Linked DNA regions of Homo sapiens: regions 1, 2, 4 and 5 are each linked to region 3. Evidence: fine-mapped expression QTL. A gene starts in region 3. Each other region holds a variant in brackets. All regions are shown on one strand. Distances are from middle to middle. Region 1 overlaps BTBD1 (BTB domain containing 1). Region 2 overlaps EFL1 (elongation factor like GTPase 1). Region 3 holds the start of BTBD1 (BTB domain containing 1). Region 4 has its middle 18 kb from the start of TM6SF1. Region 5 overlaps TM6SF1 (transmembrane 6 superfamily member 1).

Region 1 (4,150 bases), 31 kb before region 3:
ATGGAGTGCAGTGGTGTGATCACGGCTAACTGCAGCCTTGAACTCCTGGGCTCAAGTGATCCCCACCTCAGCCCCCCAGGTAGCTGGGACTACAGGTGTGTACCACCACTCCAGGCTAATTTTTAAATTTTTTTTTGTAAAGACAGGGTTTCGCCATTTTGCCGAGGCTGGTCTTGAACTCGACTCAAACAATCTACCTGCCTCAGCCTCCCAAAGTGCTGGGACTAAAGGCATGAGCCACTGTGCCCCATCTAAAAAATTTAATTTTTAAGATTTAATTTAAAAATCAATAAGGATATATTCTTGTAATAACAAGGGCAACCCACTAAAATAATAATAAAAGAATCTTTAATACGGGAGGCTGAGGTGGGAGGATAACCTGAGCCCAGGAGGTTGACGCTGGAGTAAGCTGAGATCATGCCACTGCATTCCAGCCTGGGTGACAGAGGAGACACTGTCTACACCAAAAAAAAAAAAAAAAAGAAAAAGAAAAAGAAAGTTTAATAGACTATTAATCATATTAAATATAAAGTGAACCAAATATTCCAAATAAAAGGCAAAGTCTGTCAGACTGAATTTTTTAAAAATGAAGCTTACAAGAGACATGGTCAAAATAATGTAAGGCTAAAAGTAAAAGGATGAGAAAGATATAGAATTTAAAAAACCTTGAGAAACTATACCAATATCAGACAAAGACTTTAAAACAAGAAGTTTAGGCCAGGCGTGGTGGCTCATGCCAGAATGTTGGGTGACTGAGGCAAGCTGATCATTTGAGGCCAGGAGTTCGAGACTAGCCTGGCCAACATGGCAAAACCCCATCTCTACTAAAAATACAAAATTTAGCAGGGTGTGGTGGTGCACACATGTAGTCCCAGCTACTAAGGAGGCTGAGGCATGAGAATTGCCTGAACCCAGAAGGTGGACGTTGCAGTGAGCCAAGATTGTGCCACTGAACTCCGGCCTGGGTGACAGAGGGAGACTGTCTCAAAAAATAAAATAAAAAACAAAAACCCACAATAAGTTTAGATTTAAGATGAGATAGACTGTAAAGATAAAGAAGCAAATTCAATATAAAAAAAAATCCTAAATTTGAAGGTACCTAAAATAAAGAAGAAAATAAAGAAGAAAACTGATGGAACCAAAAGGAAACACATTCTCAATCATACCCTGAGATTTAAATCTACTTCTTTTAGTAACTGATAGAACAAAAAGCAAATCAATAGATAGATACATAGAAAATTTGAAGATCATTAGTATATATTCCTTTCATAGATATAGTATTCAATCTGTTGAACAGATACAGGACTATTCAGGTTTTTCTGCACATAACAAAGAAGAATACATTCTTCTCAAGTATACATGGATACTTATTACAACTACCGTATGGGCCAGGCACGGTGGCTCATGCCTGTAATCCTAGCATTTTGGGAGGCCATGATGGGTGGATCACCTGAGGTCAGGAGTTTGAGACCAGTCTGGCCAACATGGTGAAACCCTGTCTCTACTAAAAATATAAAAATTAGCCGAGCGTGGCACCGCATGCCTGTAATCCCAGCTACCGGGGAGGCTGAGGCAGGAGAATCGTTGGACCCCAGGAGGCGGAGGTTACAGTGAGCCAAGATCATGCCACTGCACTCCAGCCTGGGTGACAGAGTGAGACATTGTCTCAAAAATAAATAAAACAAAATAATAAAAAATAAATAAAACTACCATATGCTGGGCCAAAGCAGATATCAACAAATTTCAAAGCATTGAAATGATATAGAATATATTTTCTGACTATACTGGAATTAAGACAGAAATCAGCAAGAGCAAGATAAGAAGAAATCTCAAATATTTGGAAATTAAGTTATCTATAATTTATGAGTCAAAGAAAAAAAAAGCAAAAATTAAAAATTCTTAATCGAATGCTAATGAAAATACACATATTAAAAACTGTGGGGGGGAAGGATGCTGAGAGAAAAAATATACACTTAAATATATGCATTCAAAAAGAATATAGGTTGACCTTCTAAGTATCTCAAAAAGTCACAAAGACTAATAAAATAAATAACCCCAGCAAATTAAAAGCAAAGAAAGGAAAGAAAGTAATAAAGAAAAAGGCAGAAAGTAATGAAATGGAAAACATACTGTAATAGAGAAAATTAATAAAGCTAGAAGTTGGTTCCAGGAGAAAATTAATAATACAAACTCTTGAACACTGGGGGAAAAAAAGGAAATATTTCTAACTTTTGTATGAGGACAATTTTGACAATTTCATTGCAAGAAAAAAA[A/T]ATATATATAGACTAATTTCTCTCATTCAGTAGTCATAAAAATACATTAAAAATTCAGCAAATTAAATCCAGTAATATATAAAAAGGATAATGCATAACAACCAAGTCTGATTTACGTAAGGAATCCAAAATAGGTTTAAATTGGGAAATCAATTAATGTAGTTCACTATATTCACAGAATAAGGGGGAAAACTGTATCATTACCAAAAAAAAAAAAAAAAAAGAATAATAGCTTGATTCCTCTAAAAGAAAGCAAGAAAGGAAAAAAAAAAAAAAGATGTGACAAGTAGAAAACAAATTGCAAGATGGTAAACATAAACCCAAATATATCTGTAATTACATTAAGTGCAAGTGAACCAAAACAGTTCAGATAAAAGACAAAGTCTGTCAGACTGGATTAAAAAATTATTGGCATATTCAACATCATTAATCATCCGTGATATGAAATTTAAAACCAAAATGAAATACGTCCTCACATCCACACAAATGGCTAGAACTACAAAAACTGACAATACCAAGTATTGGAGAGGATGTGGGCAACCAAAACAAACTCTTATGTCTCTTCACTTTGTTGATGAGTGTAAACTGTTACAACCACTTTAAGGGACTGTTTGGCAGGATGGCAGGATCTACTAAAGCCGACCATATGCACACTCCATGACTTAGCAATTCCACTCGTATATATCCAACAGAAATGTTTACGTATGTATACCAAATCACACGTACAAGAATGGCCTCAATGGTCCCCAAACAGAAATAATCCATATATCCAACAACAGTAAAATGGATAAATCATGGCACAGTTGTATAACAGAATATTATAAAGCAATGAAAAAGAATGAACTACTGCCACACTCAACCACATGGATGAATCTAACAGGCGTAATGTTAAGAGAAAGAAGCCACACAAAAATGAATACACACCATATATATGATTTCCTTTATATAAAGTTTACATATGGACACAACTAATTTATAGAAGACAGAAAGTAGTCACCTTTCAGAGGGAGATTAGTGACTTAGAGGGTCATGACAAAGGCTTCTGGGGTACTAGTACAGTAGGATAAATTGGTTAAATAAGTATGTTCACTTTATTTGTTAATTTTACTATATGGATGTTAAACTTTAATTTCAAAAGTTTATTTAAAAAAAACCCAAACACTGATTCTTATCAGCAAAAACAAAAACAATCTTGGAGAAAATTGGAACAAGTATAAGTCAGAAAAAAAAATTTGGTATAATAATAAATATACAAAGAATCAATGTAAGATAAACCAGTAAAACAAAATTTGAACACACCAACAGAACAACAAAAGACATGAATAATGTAAAGGAAAATAAATAGGCCAATAAGCATAATGAAATACAATTCAGCCAGGCACACTGGCTAAGAGGTGAAGGTGGAAGAATCACTTGAGCCCAGAAGCTCATGGCCAGCCTGAGCAACATGGCAAGACTTCATCTTTAAAACTAAAATAAAATCGAAAAATAAAAAGTAATACAATTCAAAACAATCATGAAATAGTGTTAAAAATAAAAACCATATGACTGTCTCAATAGACATGAAAAAGCATTCAATAAAATCCAGCATCTCTTCATGATAAAAGCCCTCAACAAACTAGGCATCAAAACAATATCCCCAAAATAACAAGAGCCATCTATGATAAATCCACAACTAACATCATGCTGAAAGGGCAAAAGCTAGAGGCATTCACCTTGAAATTAGAAAAAGACAAGGATGCTCACTCTAACCACTCCTATTCAACATAGTACTGGTAGTCCCAGCCAGAGCAATCAGGAAAGGAAAAGAAATAAAATGCACCCAAATAAGAAAAGAAGTCAAACTATCTCTCTTCACAGATGATATGCTTCTATAC
Region 2 (4,150 bases), 820 kb before region 3:
TACTTTGCAACTGGGGAAACAACACTTGCCTATTCATCTGGCTAAACTCCAGACTTTAGAGTGGGAGAACTTCAAGCACTTTTCCATCCTTTGTGATACGACCGGGACCTGATACTGAAGTTTCAGAGACTGGGTCTCCAGTCAAGTTCTTTACAGAGTCTAAAAATGCACTCGTACAGACATTTCAGGCTTCCTATACAACAGTGCTCTTACCTTTTATTGGAGTTACAGACCTTTTAGGGAATAGTCAGAAAAACGAATACCTATCTACTTATCTATGCTCCCCTAAGTACGCGTCCATTTCCAGATTCTTTGAAATTCATTCAGGAAGGGCAGGTTCAGATCTAGAGAGGAACTGAAAGCTAGAGATACACCAAGTGTTTCCACCCGACAATCTACATCCTAAAAAATAAGTGTCTGATCAAATAATATAGCTGAGAAATAAACAGCCAGCCTTGGAGCTCACATCACACATACATATTAAAGGTTCAGAGAAGCCCTGTAAAAGAAGTTTGTCCAATTCTGTTTAACCTGGAGTTTCTCAAATATATTTAATGGTGAGAAGGAGGAAATGCCATGGTCAGTTACACAGCTGACAAAGGCTTGGCTCAGCTCTGAGCCAGGCCTCCCAATTCCTCCTTCAATGCCTTTTTCATCTTAACCCTTTCCAAACAACGTTAACCTAAATTTCAAAGGTTGGGGACAGAAGTCCCATATCCATTAGAGAAAAAACGTCCCCAAGCACAGCTCTTCTGCTGTGACTTCAGCCACATTATGTCTCTTTAAAAAATGCCACTTACCACTTTTGCGTGTGTGTGATCAAATTAAAAAATACATAAACGCAGTTATAGGGGTTTACCATGGTAGATATTATTGTTATTGCCAGTATTAATTATTTAAAAAGTAGAGAATGCATAACACTTTTCAAGAGACAAAATTTTTTAAGCATGCTAAATGATCTTTCCGATTTGTAACAAAGTCCTGAAGCTATATGTTGAATTAATCCCTGCAATAGCATTCAGGGACAGAAACTTCTGCTGCTTTACTTCCCAGGCATTCCAAACTAAACGGCTTCATTTCAAGGCACAGATCTAATCAGTCAAGCAACAATCCAATCTTTTTATGTTCCAGGGGGCTGAAAAAAAAGTTGGAAGAACTGAAGTTAATTATGGGAGATATCTTCCAGACAATTTCTGCTGCTAATAGGGAGTTATGGGAAAAGAATTCCTCCCTTGCCCATGGTTTTAAAGTGCCATGGATAATTGTCTCACAGAAGGTGCACATTTGTCACTAGGACCTGCCAAAACATCTCTGTATTCAGTAAAACTTCATGTAAGGAGTTTAGTGTTCAACTTCCAAAACACTGGAAATGCTCACTAAAGCATACATAGAAAGCTGATGAGAGAAAACTTTCCATAAAATAAAAAAGAAAAACTGAAGTTATGGAAGAAGATCTGAACCTCCTGAAAGTGTCCTTTATGTGTCAGTGTATTGGTAGAGTATTTTGCCTGACAACAAAAATAACAGAAATATAGGCAGAACCTGAGTTATCTGAAGACATGTTCCTACATTCCTTATGTATGAACTTCTAACAATTATATACAAAAATTGTACCCCAACTATATATAAAGTAACCACAAGTCTCCCTCCACAGGAAATACTACTTTTTTTTGTTTTTTGTTTTTTTTAGAGACAGGGTCTCACTGAAACATTCAGGCTGGATGCAGTGGCACAATCATAGCTCACTGCAGCCTCAAATTCCTGGGCTCAAGCGATCCTCCTGCCTCAGCCTCCCAAGTAGCAGGGACTGCAGGCACACAAGGGTAACTTTTATTTTTTGTAGAGATGGGGTTTCACTGTGTTGCCGTGGCAGGTCTCAAACTCCTGTCCCTAAGTGATCCTTCTGCCTCAGTCTCCCAAAGTGCTGGGATTACAGATGTGAGCCACTGCACCTGGTTTCCTTTTATATCTTAAATCACTATTATCCTTTTATATTTTAAATCAATGTATAACATTATAAGTTATAAATCAACTAATACGACTTATTATTTGACAGAACTGTAAAGCACAATTGTAAAGCTGACACAGGTAACAGGGTAACTATCTTTATGAGAAGCCTGCCACAAGGAGAGGTGAAGGGTGGTTGACTCTGATAGTATGTGTCAAAACTGAGA[T/G]GGGGTCAGGCACAGTGGCTCATACCTATAATCCAAATGCTTTGGAAGGCCAAAACAGGAAGATCACTTGAGCCAAGACCAGCCTGGACAACATGGTAAGACCATCATCTCTACAAAAAAATTTAAAAAATTAGCCAGGCATGGTGGCACATGCCTGCAGTATTAGCTACTCGGGAGGCTGAGGCAGGAGGACTGCTTGAGCCTAGGAGTTCTGGGCTGCAGTGAGCTATGATCACCACTGCACTCCAGCCTGGGTGATAGAATGAGACTCTTGTCTTAAAAAAAAAAAAAAAGTGACAGGGGTTAGGAAAATGAGAGGAAAAATGATCTAGAAACAACTATGAATAGCAAACTGATTAAGTTTTCTTTTGCTGCACAAACCCGACCCGAAGACCTCTCCAGACCTTCCTCCAACATGAAACTAGACCACGTACAGACCACTTCTGATTACATTTGGCCTCACCCGCTTTTGGTTTTTCTCAGTATGATGCCAGTCCACATCTGCCACCCAGTACTGTGGCCACACCCTGAACTCTGACATCACTGAGAACTTCTCCACCTTTCAAGGCCTGCTGCGTAGATAGTAAATCTAATAATTACACATCCACATTGTCTTGATTCCTTTGATCATTGGCAGTTTTGCTTGGAAGGGTGTAAGAACCAGAATAAGAAACCCTGGAGTAAAAAAAAGGTTGATGTTTACTTCTTATAATCTCTCTATGCTTAGCATCACCCTGGAGAGAAGGTCATAGATCAAGGACCAATTTCACACTGCTAATGCATGTCATTACTGTAAGGTGCTAGTCTCATTATCGGAGTAATTGAGAGAGTAATTGTAGGATAACTTTGACTAAGAAGGGGGAAGAGGGAAAATGCAGAGGAATGTGGGGCTGAAAGAAGGATTTATGTATTTTTTTAAGACAAGAAAGACAAGAAAGACTTGAGCATGCTTAAAAGCTGATGGATACAAGCCAGTACAGAGGGAGAGGTGGAAGATACTGAAGAAAAGATCATTAAGTCCAGAGCACAGGTTTTTGCCAGTGACAGGAGGCAAGCAAAAAATGCCCATACCATTACGTTTTGAGATACAGTGGCAAGCAGGTGAGAATTCTTCTCTTTTCTGTGAAATAGAAGGTAAGAATGTCTGCTGAGATTGTGGAGGAGGGGATGACAGGTAGGCTGAAAGAGACCAGAAGGTTTAAAATAGGTATTGGGAAGAATGAGCAAGACCTAACAGTGAGAGATGGGAAATCTGCCAGCAGTCTGGAGGACCACTTGAGAACCTAGCCCAAATGCAAGGATGAAGACGTGTAGAGAATTAGCTTTATCAAGGGTTAAAGTTTTGTTGGGAAAAATATGACAGAAGGTCAAGAACCAAAGAGACTGAAGACGCTGGCAAGACTGTCAGTGAAATGACAAATCTGGGCTGTATGAAGCAGGAAATGAATGAAGAAAGAGGCTGTGGGGAGTCAAAAAAACTAGAGAACATTATGAAGTCAAAGAATGGGTACCTCATTAATCAGGTGAAAGAAAGAGCTGGGAGAATCAAAGATTGTAGAGAAGGAAGTATTTAAGTTTGAAAGGTCGAAGATGGATAGCTCAAGGTGATGCTAAAATCCAGAAAGTATTCATGACAACAGGTAGGTGAAACGCAGAATCAATGTTGTTGAGAGGATAAGCTGTTGAAGAAGTCATTCTCAGGGATGGTGAAAAGCCACCTTAGAAGATTCAGGTAAAAAGAACAATTATGAGTCCGGGTGCCAAATTCACTAATGAACAGGAACCATCACCAGGAGCTGACAATGACTGGAAAGGTGAATAATTGGATGGTCTGAGTCTTGAAAGAAGAAGTTTGAAAACAAGGGTAGAAGAATTAACTTTTGTAATCAGATCTGGGAACAAAAAGAATGGCAATCCCATATGCTAACCCAGAGATACGTGGAACATGAATGAATGAGTAGCATTCACTTGGAAAA
Region 3 (4,150 bases):
TGAACTATACCCAATCCTCCTGGTGAACTTTAAACTAAAATGACCTGGATTTTAGCTTTTGAGGTCCCCCCCCTTTATAAATGTAACTGAACTAAATTACAGAAAATATCAGAAACAAAGAATAAAGAAGAAAAAAAGGTACTTTCATCTCACTACTCCAGGTGACTTTGCTTAGCATTTTGGTATGTTTCCTTTTATCCCGGTCTCTAGGTATATGTTTGTTCCATGTCTTTTCACGTTGTAACCATGGTGCAGTTTCAAGTGCTATCCGTCATATTTAGTGACTGCATTATATCTCATCAAGTGAACCTACCACTGTTTAACCATTCCCTACAGCTGACTACTTCCTCACTACTATAAATAAAGCTGTAAATATTTTTGTATGCAATTTGCAATACTTGAATGCTTCTTACGTGTGGAAAGAAAATCTATAGCACCAAACTGTTTTCCAAAAGGGTTTTTACCACCATCTTTGTCAGAAAATGCTGTTCAGATGTTACCTTTAAATTTTTTGGTGGGATTAATGGAAGGAAAAAATACCACTGTCTTTTAATTTGCACTTCCTAATTACCAGCCAGGTAAAACATTCGTTAATTAGTTGTATTTTTTCTTTCTCTAAGTTATCTATCCTGTCCTTTATCCATTCGTCAATGGAATCTTATTATTTGTTTCTAGTTGTGTGAACTTTACATTCATTTTCTTGTTCATCTTTCTGATTCAACTGTGAACCTTTGTATCTAATTCTGTCCCACTGACCTGCCTGTTTTTGCTTCAGTACTACCCAAGACTCTGCCATTTTAATAACAACACGTTCTACTCAGGCAGCTATTTAAAACCATCTTAGTATAATGAAACAGACATGGTCTTCAGTGTGAGTTAGCTGTTTGTTACCTTGGGCAAGATACTTGACTCTTCTGGGCCTCAGTCCCATTTGTGAAATTGGGGTAAACAATTCTTACGCCTCCCTAACAGGATGGCTGTGATTAAAAGCTAGTAATGCCAAACAATCACCTTTTCATTAGATGTCAATCTACTATCCTCAAATAACCAACAAGCAAATTCTAACATCAAGGGAGGGATTCATTTATAAGCAAATGTGACCTTGTGTGTAGAAACACAAAGCAGGTAAAGCCTCACTTGTCTGTTTTCGTATTTACTTTCCTGGGTCTTGACAACTAATACGTTAATGAAAAACAAAAACAAAAACAAAAAAGTGGCCAGGCGCGGTGGTTCACGCCTGTAATCCCAGCACTTTGGGAGGCCGAGGTGGACGGATCGCTTGACCCCAGGAGTCCGAGACCAGCCTGGGCAACATAGTGAAACCCTCTCTCTACCAAAAATAAAAATAAAAAAAATTAGCCGGGCGTGGTGGCGCGTGCCTGTAGTCCCAAATACTCGGGAGGCTGAGGTCGGAGCATCACCTGAGCCCGGAGAGGTCGAGGCTGCAGTGAGCCATGATCGCGCTACAGCATTCCAGCCTGGGCAACAGAGCAAGACCTTGTCTCAAAAAAAGCGGGGGGAAGGGGGTGACAATAACCCCAAAACATCAGTCCTGCAAGATTTTTCAACTACTCTCTTCCCCCAAACAAAAACATAAAACTTCGCAAATGGGCAATCAGGACAACCTGATCTGCCCCTCTATCCTTGCCACTTGTCTAATTCTGAAGTCTGAGCGACAATCCATAATTGGAATGCGAAACGCCTTTCAATGGTAAAACGCACGCTTGCCTAATGAAGACACTAACGTTTAGTTGGCGACTGAGCCGTCCTGGTTCACAGATTTCGATTTCGACCCTCCGGAGCATCAACGGCTCGGGAGGAAACTGAGGCCCCGGGCGGGTCAGAAGAGCCCAGCCCAAGGTCATCCGGGAGTCCGGGTAGGCCGGGCCCCGGGGATCTCCCAGCCCGGCCCGGCCCGGCCCGGCCCGGCCCGGCCCGGCCCGCGCTGCCGCTCACCTCAGCAGCGCCAGGAAGGCTGCGGGCTCCACGTCCGGCAGCTCGATCTCGGCCGACGTGGTGGCCATGCCGCCGTTGAACATGGCGTCAAAGACGGCGCTGCCGGCCGCCAGCACGAAGCGGTGGGCGGGGATGCGCTGCGGGCCCCCAGCGGCGGCGGCGCCGCGACCCTTGCCCAGTACGAAGCGCACATCGCTCAGCAGCTCCGAGTTGAAGAGGAAGGCGAAGCGCTCCTTCAGCGACGCCTTGGTCGCCTGCCAGTTGTAGAGAGGTTCCCGCTGCAGGGGGAGCAGGGGCCCCAGAGAGGACGGTGAGGGCGGCGGCGGCGGCCCCGCGGGGCCCGGCTCCGCCTCAGCCCCCGACGCCTGCTCCCCAGCTGCGGCAGGCCCGAGTGAGGCCATCCTCCAGCTGCGCGGTTGCCCACGTTATGGACAAAACTCCGCCGCCATCGCCCAGGCCGCCTCCGGAGGCCGGCGCTGCCTCCCTGCCTTCCGGGAAAGGCGCTTCCGGGGGCCTCGCGCCTCCGCAGGCCCCTCCCTGACCGCGCGCGCCCCCGCACGCCCGGGTTGCCGCTGTGCGCGGCCGCGGGAGGTGTAACAGGACTGGACTCCCGGCAGCCCCAGGGCAGGGGCGTGGGGAGCTGGTCCTAGCTCAGCGCTCCCGGAGGTGGAGCTTCTGCAGGCTGGGTGCTGCCGGGCCTACGGGCACCCACCCCCTGGCTCAGTGCCCTGGGTATTCTGACTCAGTAGGTCTGGGGTAGGGCCTGAGAATTTGTAATTTTAAGATGCATCGTGGATCTGCAGGCGGCTCTCACGGCTGCCTTTTTCTTCCTGCAGGCCCCTTATCACCAAGTCCAGCGCCCCCATTGTGTATCTGGGACATGTCCCAAGGCCTGTCCCGAGGAGTGTTTTGCCTGGAAGTGGAGGGGCAGGAAAGTATGGCCAAGGGAACACGTGAGGGAGGGGATGACATGACTTCCCACAACCCTGTACCCCAAGCGTGGCCAAGTCGCCGCTCCAGAAGGCCGCGAAACCCGTGGAAATTCCGGAAGCAGAGGTGGAAGGCTTAGAACCCCAGTGACCTCTCCCCAGGTCCGCAGGTCCCTTTCCCTTCTAATTGACCCTTTGGTTCCGTCCTCTGGGCCTAAGAGACATTTCCTTCTACTGCTTCCACCCCTGTATTTGAAACCCCTCGTGCTTGCCCACCTTCTCTTGTAGCGCTTTTCAGTCCTTGCACTGAACCACTGCCTAAGCTTGAAATTTAAAAAATTAAAAACTAAAACACACACACAATGGAAAAGGCTGTATTATCCCTTCCCAGGCAGTATTTACAACCCGGTCATCATGATTGGGGGACCGAGGCCTTCCTTTTTCTCCCTTCAGTGAGGCAGGCCCTGAGTTAAGTCAGCTGTCAAAAGCAGAACGTAGAAAACCCAAGAAATAGTCCTTGACCAGGCACGTATAGTTGGAAACACCTGTTCTTTGCAGGAAGAGCCTTACAGATTACAAATGCCGTCAAGTAAATAGTAAACCCCAAACCTGGGTTTCTCCTGTAAAATCACTCCACTTGTGAAACCACCAGAGGGGACTTCCAGCTGTTAGGCATTTAGAATGGTAACTTCTTTGGGAGAGGAACGTGCTTGGGAAGAGACTTAAAGTAGTAGGGGCTGAAATAGTGGATGCACAACCCCTTCCCCATTGCCAGCCGGCAATTCCTAAAGACAAAGGGACATCATGCTACTAATGATACCATTATCACACCTAACAAAATTAACCATATCATCAAATCATCTATATATGATTTTTTTTTTTTTGAGACGGAGTCTCGCTCTGTTGCCAAAGCTGGAGTGCAATGGCATGAAGTCTGCCTTCCGGGCTCAAGCGATTCTCCTCCTCAGCCTCCCGAGTAGCTGGGGTTACAGGTGCGTGTCACCACATCCAGCTAATTATTTGTATTTTTAGTAGAGACGGGGTTTCACCATATTGGCCAGGCTCCTCTCCAAGTCCTGACCTCGTGATCTACCCGCCTCGGCCTCCCAAAGTGCTGGGATTACAGGCATGAGCCACCAGGCCTGGTCCTATGTATAATATTTAATGTACAGTTAATATTTGTTTCTCCACTTGTCTCTAAAAAAATTTTTTTTTGAGACGGAGTCTTGCTCTGTTGCCCAGGCTGGAGGGCAGTGGCATGATCT
Region 4 (4,150 bases), 23 kb after region 3:
AAATATGACCTTCCACGAAAAAGCATGTCATGGCCAGAAGTAAAATTCAAAGCAGCAGGTTGGGTTTCAGAGTCTACGATGCTAGAATATGCTGCCTCTCTGGTTACAGGGAAATAAATATAGACCAGACTGATTATGTGAACACATTTTATTTAACTTTGCCCATCTTTACTCATTTCCCAGCCAACAGAAACTAAATCAACCCAGCTATAAGTAGGTCTGCTTATCTCTTTCCTTCCAGCCTCAGAAATTTCCCTTCTTTTCAAGGCTAAATTTTCCATCTTTGCTGTTGAGTTTATTCCCTTGCTGTCTTGCTAAATTACCTGTCCATTTTTTTTTCTTTTTTTTTTTTGAGACGGAGTTTTGCTTTTGTTGGCCAGACTGCAGTGCAGTGTTGCGATCTTGGCTCACCACAACCTCCATCTCCCGAGTTCAAGCAATTCTCCTGCCTCAGCCTCCTAGGTAGCTGCAATTACAGGCATGCGCCACCATGCCCGGCTAATTTTGTATTTTTAGTAGAGATGGGGTTTCTCCACGTTGGCCAGGTTGGTCTCGAACTCCTGACCTCAGGTGATCCACCCGCCTCAGCCTCCCAGAGTGATGGGATTACAGGCGTGAACCACCGTGCCTGGCCTGTCCATTTCCTTTCTGGTGACTTTGATGTCTCCATTTCCACTGGTTCCTTTCCTTGATATCCACAAATACATAACTAATTTCCCTAACAGAAAAACATCTCCTCAAAGCCTCTGCTTCAGCTTCTGAGTGTCTTCCTTTCTTCTTCCTTCCTATCAAAGTTTCTTCACTCCACATTTTCATCTCCTCACAGTCTTCATGCCGCTGTGGTCTGGCTCTGGCCACCACTCCCCTGAGTGGCTCTAAGGCCACTGGCTGGTGATCTCCTACCTGCCAAGTCCATGAGTCTTTTTCTGTCATGTTATTTGACCTCACTGGGCTTGGTGGTTGACCATTCACTCCTTGAAACTCTCCTTACCTGGAATTTGTAACACAGTTTTATAATTTTTCACACTTGTCTTTCTCTAATGTTTTCTTTTCAGTTTGCTGTATCACAACCTCCTCTTCTGCCCCACCGTGGGCACTGGTATTACCCATGCTTCCATCCTTGGCTGTCTACTTCCTACTCTCAACCCACTTTCTGCTTAATCTCATGGATTCCCATGATTTCAGCTAGTGCTGGTGATCTCCAAAGCTGTATCTCCAGCCCTGATCATTCTTAGCATAATACTTGTTTTGAATATTCAAACATCTAGAAATCTGTTGGTGTCCTACAGACATGTCAAACTGAACTGACTACATCTCCTTCCCTGGAGCCTCTTTCAATTCCTTGTAAGTAAATTTCTGCTACCTTAAAAAAAATCCAGCCAAAATCCTGGTAGTGAAGCGGGAAGAATGTCTGGCTGTCTGACGATAGCCTGTGGCCTCAACAGATCATTTATATAAGAATGTGACAGAAATGTGCTAGCTATGTCATACAGTTGTGTCCAGAGATGAGGGGAAAGAGTTCATCACATTCCTATTTCAGGGAATAACACCACCAACCAGTTAGCCACATGCTGTGGTAGAAACTAGCTAAGCCCCAGTTGCTATCCTGCTATCCTGGTCTACTCATCAATAGCTAGGTGAATTTGGGCAAGGATTTTTGTTTGTTTGTTTGTTTGTTTGTTTGTTTTTAATTGAGACAGAGTTTCTCTCTTGTTGCCCAGGCTGGAGTGCAGTGGCGCAATCTCAGCTCACTGCAATCTCTGCCTGCTGGGTTCAAGTGATTCTCCTGCCTCAGCTTCCTGAGGAGCTGGGATTACAGGTGCGCGCCACCACGCCCAGCTAATTTTGTATTTTTAGTAGAGACGGAGTTTCACCATGTTGGCCAGGCTGGTCTCAAACTCTTGACCTCAGGATATCTGGCTGCCTTGGCCTCCCAAAGTGCTAGGATTACAGGCGTGAGCCACTGTGCCCGGCCTGGGCAAGGTTTTAAACCTTGCTAGGTTTCTATTTCTTCTTCTGTCAAATGGGGATAATAACATTGTTGTTTACCTACCTAGGATAACATAAAAGATCAGATTGTTCAATTAGACTCACAGGACTCAGTAATCTTATCCAGTATTGGCCTTTACTGAGAATTCGAAAGATACACATGATATTGAGACTTGGGCCAAGCACAGAGATGCTGAGGACCACCAGTGCAGCTCCCGGTCCTCTCTCGCCATATTAGGATGCACCCTGGCACAAAATGGACATAGGAGGTTTTTAAGTGATGCATGCAGGATATAACTTACACAAAGAGGTCAGGAAACACCTTCGTTTTATACTTCAGTAATTACACAGCTGACAGATCAGCTATATCCTGGTAAATTATTGCATAAATAAGGGCTTTTTGTTATCTTTCTGATTGTAAATGCCATCAATAAGTATTTAGGAGATTGGGCCAGGTGTGGTGGCTCA[C/T]GCCTGTAATCCCAGCACTTTGGGAGGCTGAGGTGGGCGGATCACAAGGTCAGGAGATTGAGACCATCCTGGCCAACATGGTGAAACCCTATCTCTACTAAAAATTAGCTGGGCGTGGTGGTGCCTGCCTGTAGTCCCAGCAACTCAGGAGGCTGAGGCAGGAGAATCGCTTGAACCTGGGAGGTGGAGGTTGTAGTGAGCCGAGATTGTGCCACTGCACTCCAGCCTGGCAATAGAGTGAAACTCTGTCTCAAAAAAAAAAAAAGCATTTAGGAGATTGACCTGGGTCAATTCTTTTTTCTTTTTGTCCCCTTTCCTCAGATGTTCTGAAGGTTGGAAATATGACTTACTACCATTACCTAACAGTTATTTCTTCTTCTTTCCTAGTTAATACAACCTGATTTCATTTGGGCCACAACATGTACAAAGAAGGAATACCTGTCCCCAGGCCTCAGAGAAAAGTCATGATTGATTGAAGCTTAGCCCGTTCCCCTGCTAGAGATTGCTTCTGAACTCAGCATGTGGCCAATTATGGCCAATGAGATGGAAGAGTCTGGAAGCAGGCTTTTGGAAAGATTCTTGTAGCCTAGTTAAAGATAAAATCCCGGAAAGGGAAAAGCCTTGTGTTGACAAGCTTAAGAGTGAAAAACCAACGTGTTGAGGAGGAGGATTAGGAAGACATAAAGAGGCCGGGTTCTTAATGACATCCTTGAGCCACTGCAGCTAAAAAGGAAACTTCTTTCTCCAGGATTCTTATGTCAGATTTTCAAATGTCTTCATGGCTTAAACCAGATTTATGCATTCTGTTACCTGTAACTTCATGTGTTCCCAGTGAAAACAGTACCTTGTAGAGTTGCTTGAGAATCAAGACAGGCACTGAAAGTAATGCGTCAAGCATACAACAAGTTTCTATCTTATAAGCACTACCCAACATCTTTTTCTCCTTTCTTCCCTGGTTTATAAAACTTGATTTTATTTGGGCAGCCACAAGCACAAGGAAGGAGGACCTTGTTTCCAGGCCTCAGAGAAGAACCCAAATAGGTCTCAGCATCTCTCAGTATACCTTAGTCCTTTTAGTTCCCTTTCCTTTTCCTTCTCCCAGCCAGCTGTCATCCCTAAATTCTTCTGTGGTCCATGTTTCTCAACATCCATTTAATCATCAAACTCTTAGATTTGATTCCTAATTAACCTTTCCTTTCTCCTTTCGTTGCAGCCGCCATAGTCAAGACCCGTTCATTTGTAGCTTAGATTACTGCTCTTCTCAGCTCTTTGCTGCCTAGTTCATACCCCCTCACCTCATTCTCTGTATATCTACCAGACTAAGCTACTAAAATGGCCAAGCTGAGCATGTCACTCCTCTGCTTAAAAGTTTCACTAGGATGGGCGCAGTGGCTCACACCTGTAATCCCAGAAATTTGGGAGGCTGAGGCGGGCAGATCACCTGAGGTCAGGAGTTCGAGACCAGCCTGGACAACATGGAGAAACTCCATCTCTACTAAAAATACAAAATTAGGCCGGGCGCAGTGGCTCATGCCTGTAATCCCCGCACTTTTGGAGGCCAAGACGGGCAGCTCACAAGGTCAGGAGTTCAAGACCAGCCTGGCCAGCATGGTGTAACCCCGTTTCTACTAAAAATACAAAAATTAGCCAGGCATGGTGGTGTGTGCCTGTAGTCCTCAGGAGGCTGAGGCAG
Region 5 (4,000 bases), 55 kb after region 3:
TGCAATACAGGTCTGATGTTCTGCATTTACAGGTCTTATTTAAAGTGGACTTCTTTTTAATGCTTTCTTTAGGGTGAACCGTATCTGAACACCGCATATGGGCACATGATCTGCTACTGGGATGGCTCTGCTCATTATCTGATGTACCTGGTGATGGTGGCAGCCATAGCATGGGAGTAAGTCAGTTCACCTGGTGTGTGCCTTTGCCACCTTAGCAACCGATAAGCGGGTATGTAAGGAAACGTTATGCATAGAGGCAAATACACAAGCAGGTATACTGGACATGAATATAAGTTCCATGGGTGCACGTCAGACGTGGCTTTATCCTCCTTGTACCACTGCCTTTTGAATATGTCCTTCTGAATTGCTCCCTAGCATGGTGACAGCTCGGGCAGACCCTTTAAGCTTTCTGATTATGTTGTCTTACAAGAATAATTTTTATTTTCAGCAATTAAAGCTAAGCACATCTTAAACTTCATTTCAAAACTTCAAAATTTCCAAACAGCAATCTCATTTCGGTTCAAAGCTTCTGTCCTTCCCCAGATCAGGCACAGCTCTGCGGCTTGGCTCGCACTAAGGCTTGGCTACATGGCTTGTCCGTTCACTCCTCCTGTCTCACTCTGCGGCTGGCCCCTTGGCAGTGGATGTGTATGTACAAGGGATTAAAGGAACAGGAGCCGAGTCTGATGTGAAAGGTGCTGGTTTTTGGGTATTGGTACCCCCATCATGATATGCTAGCTTGGTCTTGGGAGGCACACATGTGAGTTCTTTAGAGACCCCAACCACAGGAGCTTCTGCATTGCACTAATCCCTGAAGTGAACGACGTGCTCTTGGGCTGAATTTCTGCCCATGGTGGCACACCCACAGCTTTTTTTCTGCTGGGGCCCCTGTAACCCAGAAGGTACACCCTTTGGGGAGGGGTCTTTTCAAAACATTTCAAGTCCGGCCATCTTCTCAGGCCTCCACTTGCTTCTGGGTTACAGAAAGTCATGCATTCTTGCCCCATACAAGGTTGAAATGTAGTTTACCCAAGTATCTCCCTCACTCCCAACATGCACTCAAGGTCAGCTCCAGCTAATTCTTTTTTTTTTTTTTTTTTTTTGAGACAGGCTGGAGTGCAATGGCACAATCTCAGCTCACTGCAATCTCCGCCTCCCAGGTTCAAGCGATTCTCAGGCCTCAGCTGGGACTACAGGCGTGTGTCACTATACCCGCAAATTTTGTATTTTTAGTACACAAATCTAAACATTTTTTTCACCATGTTGGCCAGGCTGGTCTCAAACTCCTGACCTCTGGTGATCTGCCCGCCTCAGCCTCCCAAAGTGCTGGGATTACAGGCGTGAACCACCGTGCCCGGCTCCAGCTCATTCTTATCTGTTCTCCTGCTTATAATCCCAGTCATTATGAATGGGCCTCTTGGGGTCTGGTTACATTTGGCTTGAGGGCGGGGGTGGGGCAGGACGCACACAGTATTCTCGTTTCCCTTCAGAGAATTTCCTTTTGAATTTCTCATAGCCTGTTACATAGTGTGGAGTTTGGGTTATTGGGGTTATCAATTGAAGGAACTTTTTTTTTTTATTTTGAGACGGAGTCTCGCTCTGTCACCCAGGCTGGAGTGCAGTGGTGCGATCTTGGCTCGCTGTAACCTC[T/C]GCCTCCCAGGTTCAACCATTTCTCCTGCCTCAGCCTCCCAAGTAGCTGGAATTACAGGTGCATGCCACCATGCCCAGCTAATTTTTTTTTTTTTTTTGTACTTTTAGTAGAGATGGCGTTTCACCATGTTGGCCAGGCTGGTTTCAAACTCCTGACCTCAAGTGATCTGCCCACCTCAGCTTCTCAAAGTGCTGGGATTACAGGCATGAGCCACCATGCTCGGCCTGAAGGAAGTTTTTGTCAGCATTGAAGATTTGGGGTATATGTCTAGCAGCTCCTTTGCAACATGGGGTACATGTCACTTGTCTTCACCTTTGGGGCTTTGGCCAAAATTCTGTGACCCCAGAAAAAGTCCATTTAACATTATCATTGTAAGTATAACTCATACTTATAATGATTAAAAATATGGATCCAATTTCATTTCTTCTTTCAACTTTCTTTTTCCTTTCATGCTGTTGAGTTTCACACACAATAGGGAAATGCAGGAGTCCTGTGGCAGGGATGATCATGTTGTAGTTTAACAGAAGACATAGCAGGCGTAATTTCCTATTTAAAAGGACACGAAGAAGGTTCTATAGTATATCACATGGCAATGAAGTTACATAACCAGGGCTCCTTGTGTTTGATTTATTCCTCTCAATTCAATATGTTTTGATTGATGTACTTTACTAGTTTGAATACAAAATAATATTGAAGATCATTTTTTGCTTAGTATTCTAAGACAAACATACCAAGTCAAGATTTTTTTGTTGTTGTTGTTACAGGGAAACTTATAGAACCATTGGCCTATATTGGGTTGGATCTATTATTATGAGTGTTGTTGTTTTTGTGCCAGGAAACATTGTAGGTAAGAAACTTTATCTTAAAGTTCACTTTCCTTTTCTAAAACAATGGGGCTTGTTTTTAAATAGAGAAGCTCTTTTAGTTATAATAGAACCAAGTGATTCCAAGCTTACTAAAAACCTGTTTTGCAGAATAATTCCTTTTTCTCACCTTTAAAAAAAGTACTTTTTAAGAAGTGCTTTGAGCAATTTTCAGATGTGTGCATTGAACAATTTGGCAGTCAAGTTATCAGGGATTCCTGTTTTTTTAGAAGGATCTTGAGGGAGTGAGTATGGTGTTTATGGCTATATTTAGTGTGCAAATATGTTAACTCCTGACACACTATGAGAACTCCAAAAATGTACTTGGAAATTACAAGTACATTATTAATGTATGCAGGAAATCAGGATATATAGGTAGATAGATAGATAGATAGATATAGATATAGGGAGATAGATATATACAAACATATATAGATACCTATCTAGATGTATTTTTTGAGACAGGATCTCACTCTGTTGCCCAGGCTGGCTTGCAGTGGTACAGCCATAGCTCACTGCAGCCTTGATCTCCTGGGCTCAAGCAGATTACTGTAGATAGGACATGCCTGTTAATACACATCTAGTATTTTAAATTGACCTTTTTAATTTGGCCTCATTAAAAATATTGTCTGGCCCATAGCAAAATTTTAGATGACCTGAGATGGGGAGGTATCCTAAATATTACTTGTGTTAGATATGCTTTTGGTAACTTCTTTCTCTTTCTCTCTTTTAAATAGGGAAGTATGGAACACGAATTTGCCCTGCTTTTTTCTTAAGCATACCATATACTTGTCTTCCTGTCTGGGCTGGTTTCAGAATCTATAATCAGCCATCAGAAAATTATAATTACCCCTCAAAGGTGATTTTATTAAGCTTTGATGTACCCTGTTCTCAAACTCATAGGGTTCTTTCGCATCCACTGGCCACTGAATTGAACCATGCCTCTGTGGACTGGAGCATTTGGGGCATCCAAACAGTGCGACTGTTTTGATTATGTAGCATTAGCTTACGTATTAATTAATGTAGGCAAGAAGGTCTGTTTCTGTCTGAATACATCTGCTTCTGTTGGCAAGGCCATACTTTGGGGAGCTTCCTGTGCCAGTGGTCACACTGGCTCTAACTATCAGATTCTGCATTAGTGTGTCAAGTGAAGTCCATAGTGTGTGGTTCATCTAGGATTGTTAATGGCCTGGACGTTGAACACCTGGGTTCCTCTGTGACACCTATGCATTTACTACCCCAAGAGGACACTGGAGGGATACTGCTCCTCAAGGTAGTCTACACAGCCATACAATCTTGACTCCAGAGATCCAGGCCCATAGAGACTGGCTACAGGACATCTGAGACACCTCCCTTCCATTCACAGCCAAGGTAGTCAAGGTGAAACAGCACTGGCCTGGCAGATACTCTGTTAAGGCCTTCATTTCTAAGCTAGTTTCTCTCTGTTTCTTTTACTTTTCTAGGTATTAGATCATTTAGCAAGATC

Evidence for each region.
Region 1: its variant is fine-mapped to the expression of BTBD1 in whole blood (TOPMed, PIP above 0.99).
Region 2: its variant is fine-mapped to the expression of BTBD1 in lung (TOPMed, PIP above 0.99).
Region 4: its variant is fine-mapped to the expression of BTBD1 in whole blood (INTERVAL, PIP above 0.99).
Region 5: its variant is fine-mapped to the expression of BTBD1 in whole blood (TOPMed, PIP above 0.99).

The regions. Positions count from the first base shown.
Region 1 is chr15:83,033,626-83,037,775 of GRCh38, forward strand. The region is part of intron 4 of BTBD1 (BTB domain containing 1); the gene reads right to left. The region is part of intron 1 of LOC124903542 (a long non-coding RNA gene); the gene reads left to right. Among named protein-coding and RNA genes, the nearest start is that of C15orf40, 24 kb to the left of the region's middle. The variant A/T (reference allele first, on the strand shown) is at 2,274.
Region 2 is chr15:82,243,482-82,247,631 of GRCh38, forward strand. All of the region lies in intron 4 of EFL1 (elongation factor like GTPase 1), which reads right to left. Among named protein-coding and RNA genes, the nearest start is that of EFL1, 17 kb to the right of the region's middle. The variant T/G (reference allele first, on the strand shown) is at 2,175.
Region 3 is chr15:83,064,795-83,068,944 of GRCh38, forward strand. It overlaps BTBD1 (BTB domain containing 1), which reads right to left and starts at 2,458. Exons shown (of 8, transcript NM_025238.4): 1 at 1,957-2,458. The coding sequence starts at 2,357. MIR4515 (microRNA 4515) reads left to right here and starts at 2,541; the gene lies at 2,541-2,621. RefSeq lists silencers at 1,776-1,945, 2,186-2,665 and enhancers at 2,726-2,845, 2,856-2,905.
Region 4 is chr15:83,087,675-83,091,824 of GRCh38, forward strand. No RefSeq gene overlaps it. Among named protein-coding and RNA genes, the nearest start is that of TM6SF1, 18 kb to the right of the region's middle. The variant C/T (reference allele first, on the strand shown) is at 2,458.
Region 5 is chr15:83,119,506-83,123,505 of GRCh38, forward strand. It overlaps TM6SF1 (transmembrane 6 superfamily member 1), which reads left to right. Exons shown (of 10, transcript NM_023003.5): 4 at 73-176; 5 at 2,416-2,498; 6 at 3,252-3,373. It also overlaps a transcript of HDGFL3 not described here. Among named protein-coding and RNA genes, the nearest start is that of TM6SF1, 14 kb to the left of the region's middle. The variant T/C (reference allele first, on the strand shown) is at 1,651.